Linked DNA regions of Homo sapiens: region 1 is linked to region 2. Evidence: fine-mapped expression QTL. A gene starts in region 2. The other region holds a variant in brackets. All regions are shown on one strand. Distances are between the middles of the regions.

What was found. PIP is the estimated chance that this variant, and not a neighbour inherited with it, causes the effect. A credible set is the group of variants that fine-mapping cannot tell apart.
Region 1: its variant is the best candidate, but not a certain one, in a credible set for the expression of CYP4F12 in whole blood (INTERVAL, PIP 0.51).

Annotation. Positions count from the first base shown.
Region 1 is chr19:15,719,999-15,722,803 of GRCh38, forward strand. No RefSeq gene overlaps it. Among named protein-coding and RNA genes, the nearest start is that of OR10H2, 6.6 kb to the right of the region's middle. The variant T/C (reference allele first, on the strand shown) is at 1,618.
Region 2 is chr19:15,671,587-15,674,391 of GRCh38, forward strand. CYP4F12 (cytochrome P450 family 4 subfamily F member 12) reads left to right here and starts at 1,501. Exons shown (of 13, transcript NM_023944.4): 1 at 1,501-1,549; 2 at 1,943-2,141. The coding sequence starts at 1,944.

The DNA.
Region 1 (2,805 bases), 48 kb after region 2:
CAGGAAGCCAATTCTAAGTTTTGATAGTGAACAAGCCATGGGATTTTCACTAACACCTGGTGACTCATTAAAAGTTGACACACAATTTCCATCTCCACTTCATTTTTTTTCTTTTTTTTTTTTTTGCAAATGAAAGGGTCTCTAAGGATCAGCTACAGAGCTGCAGGGAGGTTAGGTTTGAATGCATAGCTCAGGGATTAAGTGGAGACAGAAACACGGCTCATCTTACTCTGGGGAAATGGTCCCAGAGAGTTTTCCATTTAGCCTCAGGTCCAAACTTAGGTGTCTGATTAGCAGCAAGAGACATAGGTAGGCATTGGAAGTGGCTCTTTCTTCCCCAAGACACTATAGTCCCAGAGCTCCACATAGCCAAATGTTACAGAAAGCACCACAGCATCTTGGACATCAGAACCAAAGTATGCAAAGTACTTGGTGCCAAGAGTGGCCCCTGTGAGCATTTTGTGCTGCCCGATGGGATGGAGGGTAAGGTCTCCAGAGCTCCGAGGTGGGCCAGGCTTCTGCTTCCTCCATCCTAATACTTACCACACTCTCCTTATTATATAAATGACTTGTTCAATACCTACTATCTTTCTCTACTCAACGTTCCCCCCAAGAAGATAAGGCCACACTGGATTTGCCCAACCTTGTGTTCTCACTGCTTGGCACCTAATAGATGCTCAATAAATAATCGCAGAGAAAACAAACAAATGACTCTCTCATTGCAACCCCATTCCATGTCTGTGAGTTGCAAAACCCTTCTAAAATGTGGATGGCTATTCTCCAGTTAATCTGAAATTCATTTTGTAGATGTAGTTGACATCATTTGAACCCACCTGCCCTTATGTGTGTATCCCCTGTGTCAACTCAGGTCTGATGGATTATGGGGAAAGGTCCTTTGGATGCAAACCTCTGCCTGTCTTTTAGGCTCCTTGAGCCACTCCTCACTCCTAGCTGCCCAAGGCCCCTTCCATATTGGCCTTCTTCGGTTCCTTGGATGAGCAGTCATTTTCCCACCCTAAGTCCTTTGCACATGCCCTTCCCTCTGCTTGGTGCACAACCTTTCCTCTCCCTCTGCAGAATGACTCAAATGAAGTGCTACCTCCTCCGTGAAGTTCTCTCCTATCAGCCTGTCCTGCTTTCTGAGGATTCATTTGCCTACTCCTGTAGCCACTACCATCCCTTCCTTATGCTCCTCCTGCTCTTGTCTGAAATTCAGTTATTCATCATCTACCTTCTCTCCTCCACTGTAAAGTCCACAAGAACAGGCACTAAGTCTGCACTGGCCATTGCAGTGTCCACAGCTCCTGGCTCAGTGATGAGCTCCAATGCTCTGGATACATCTGTTAAGTGTGTGGTAGCTGAGGCTGAACTTCCTCTGAGCTGGAGATAAGAGTTATCTCATGCACAGTCTTTAGGGGTTGAGGCTGATCACTCTCATCATCTTAAGCAGCCAGTGTGGCTCTTTCTATTTCTCCCTGTTACCAAAGAGCAGATCAAGCATGAGGTTACCTGTTTCTACTAATATTTATTGTCAGGCAGTGCTTATCTCAGATGGAGGAGACCTCTTGAGCAAGAAGTTGACCAAGACATTGAAGAGCCCTTCAACCCAACTCAGCC[T/C]TCCGATCTTTAGTGAAAATGTTATCCTATGAATATTTATGACACACCTAATATGTGCTAGAATGGTGACTGCGACCTGGATTCCACCTCTAAGAGCTTCTGGGCAAAGAAGGGAGACAGACCAGTGCATCAGTCATTCAGATACCGCAAGATAAATGCAATGAAAATGCTGCAGGCTCCTGCTTACAGCCCTTTTCCCTTCTCTGAAACTCATTGAGGTGAAAAGATCCAAAAAAGGAATTCATCTAGAATAAATTACCATTAATACTAAAGAGAACCTGCGTGGCTTGTTTCACTTGACACAATGTCTTCTAGGTTCATCCATGTTGTCGTGAATGAGAGGATTTCCTTCTTTTTCAAGGCTGAATAGTATTCCATGTGTATTTATTACCTCATCCATTTATCCGTTGATGTACACTTAGGTTGATTCCATCTCTTGACTTTTGTGAATAGTGCTGCAATGAATGTGGGAGTGAAGATATCTCTTTAATATACTGATTTCATATCCTTTGGGTATATACTATACCCAGATTATATGATATGCTGGATATTATATGCTGGATTATATGATAATTCCATTTTTAATTTTCTGAGGAACCTCTATACTGTTTTTTATAATGGCTGTACTCATCTACAATCCCACCTACAGTTTACAAGAGTTCCCTTTTCTTCACATTCTTGCCAACATTTTTTTTATCTTTCATCTTTTTGATGTTGGTCAAAGAACATAAAATTTCAGTTAGACAGGAAGACCAAGAGATCTAGTGCATCATGATGACTATAATTAATAACAATCTATTGTATATTTGAAAATTAACGAGAGTAGATTTTGAGTATTGCCATCACAGAAAAGAATGATAACTATGTGGGATAATGCACATGTTAACAGTCTTGAATGAACCATTCCGCAGTGTATACAGATATCCAAACGTCATGTTGTACAGCATAAATACATACACATTAAAAAAATGAGTATCTGCCAGATTTCATGTATTTGGGATCAGATGGAAGAAACAGAGGAATTTGTCGCACAGTCCCTGACTCAAGGGCAGAATGCAGTGAAAGGAAGTAGATGGAGAAGATGTTTCTTTTTCTTTTCTCTTTCTTTTCTTTCTCTTTTCTTTTTCTTTTCTTCCTCCTTTCTTTCTTTCTTTCTTTCTTTCTTTCTTTCTTTCTTTCTTTCTTTCT
Region 2 (2,805 bases):
CGGGAGAAGCATTTTATGTGGAACATCTGGCACACAGTAGGTGTGCTTTATTTAGAGCACCTGGCACACAGCAAGCATGGTTTATATAAAGGGCCAGGGACTCAAGATACAGGATTTGTGAAGGGCTCCCAGCATACAGTAGACAGTATTTATGTGGAGCTCCTGGCACACAGTAGGTGCACTATATGTAGAATAGCCAGCACACAGTAGACAAGATTTATGTAGATTACTTGATGCAGAGTAGGTGCGCTTTCTGTGGGTCACCAGGTACGTAGTACACATGCTCAATGTGGAGCACCTGACACACAGTAGGTATGCTTTATATACAGCACATGGCACAGAGTAGGCACGCTTTATATGAAGTACTCTGCATAAAGTAAGCTTACATTATGTACAGCATGCTGCACACAGTAGGTGAGCTTTATGTGGCATACCTGGCACATAGTAGACAGAATTTATGTACAGTATCTGATACACAGTAAGTGCACTTTATATAGTGAAACTGGCACACAGTAGGTGCACACAGTAGTGCTTTCCGTACAGTCTTTCGCATGGAGTAGAGACAGGCACACAGCAGCTCAAGTGCTAGTTGTCATCCCCTTCCCTTCAGTCCCTCTTTTTGGAGCTCCCTTTTCTTAGGAGCCTTCCTCCGTCGCCCTCTAAGGCCTCATCTGACATCCCATTTCCCAGATGGGAAGCCTGAGCCCAGGATGGCCACACTGCCCACAGTCAGAGAAAGGACAGGGCAGAACAAGGACTCCACTCGGGATCCCCTTGCTCTGCCCTCCCCTGCCTGGACCCCGTCAGCTCAAGGCCCCTCTCAGCCTCATCCCCTGTGCCTCCGCTCTGTCCTCCTAAGCTGAGCCCAGCTTCTAGGTTTGCTCCTCCAGCTGGGCTCTTTATCCCCAGAATCTGACGAAGGTAATCCTCAGCGGGGTTGGGGCTGGATTCTTTCTTCCTGCTTCAAGCAGTCAGGCCTCAACTCAGGCCCTGGGCTGCCAGGAGGCAGGACTTGAACTCTTGCCAGGCTGTGAAGCCAGAGATGAGAGGCTTCTGTCTCTGAATCTCCTAAGTCTGCACCAAGATGTAGTGCCTGACATCCTCCCCGCCCATGTTTGGAGAGGAGCCCAGATGATCTGGGACAAGGGTTGGCCTGGCCCAGCTCAGCTGGCTGCCAACTGTCATGATAAGTATATGCTTTTATCTGAACACCCTTGTCTTGGAAGGGCAGGGTGGAGGTAAACTTGGGGTTCAGAGTCCCCTCTAACCACCCTCCAACTTCCCCTGCAAACTCCCAAGAAGGTACTGAGACCTGAGAATTCAGTGCTCGTGCTGGGGCACCCTGAGCTGCACCCAGTGGGCCCAACCCCAGGTTTTGGCTGGCTGCCCAGGCACGGAAGACACACCCAGGCTGTGGGGATTGGCTGCCTCAGCCCAGCCCAGCCCAGCCCCGCCTCCTACGGCCTTCCCTAGATCAGGGGCCAGGGCCAAAGACCTCCCAGCAGAAGAGGAGAAGAGGTTGTGTGGGACAAGCTGCTCCCGACAGAAGGTACCAGGCTGGGGGTGGCAGGGCTGGAAGGTCCTGGCCTGGGATGAAGAGGGGACTGCCTAAGGCTGGGGTGGCTCCAAGATGCTGGCATGGGAAACTGGGGGTTTCCTGGTAACTGGACTCCTAGCAAACTCCCAAGGATTCAGGTGGGGCCCTTCTGGACTCTAATCGGCCCATCTCTTTCCCTTTCTGTGTGGTTACCAGGTTACTGGAGGCCACTTAGTTGTTGGTTTTGGTTGGGACTTTCTGGACTTCAGATCTCAGCCCTCGTTTACTCACCCCTGAGCCCTCCCTGCCCTGCCCCCAGCAGTTCCTGACTTCGCCCCTATACACTGTCCCCGGAGCTCTTCCCTGGGCCTCAGGTCCTCACCCTGCATCCCCTCTGCCCTGCAGGATGTCGCTGCTGAGCCTGCCCTGGCTGGGCCTCAGACCGGTGGCAACGTCCCCATGGCTACTCCTGCTGCTGGTTGTGGGCTCCTGGCTACTCGCCCGCATCCTGGCTTGGACCTATGCCTTCTATAACAACTGCCGCCGGCTCCAGTGTTTCCCACAGCCCCCAAAACGGAACTGGTTTTGGGGTCACCTGGGCCTGGTGAGTGTGACAGCAAAATGTGTCTGGGGTCTCAGGGTGGATGGACTTCCAGAGGAGCAGGAATGGGGCTCAGTGAGCTAGGTATTGATGGTGGCTGGGGTCTGCGACCCCAGAGAAGCAAGAGAGATGGCTCACTCATTCCTCTGCTAACTCACTCATTCCTCTACCCACTCACTCCTCTACCCACTCACTCACTCCTCTACCCACTCACTCACTCCTCTACCCACTCACTCATTCCTCTACCCACTCACTCATTCCTCTACCCACTCACTCCTCTACCCACTCACTCACTCCTCTACCCACTCACTCACTCCTCTCCTCACTCACTCATTCCTCTCCTCACTCACTCATTCCTCTACCCACTCACTCACTCCTTTCCTCACTCACTCACTCCTCTCCTCACTCACTCATTCCTCTCCTCACTCACTCATTCCTCTCCTCACTCACTCATTCCTCTACCCACTCACTCACTCCTCTACCCACTCACTCAATCCTCTACCCACTCACTCACTCCTCTACCCACTCACACATTGCCCTCCTCACTCACTCATTCCTCTCCTCACTCACTCATTCCCCTCCTCACTCATTCCTCTCCTCACTCACTCATTCCTCTACCCACTCACTCATTCCTCTCCTCACTCACTCATTCCTCTACCCACTCACT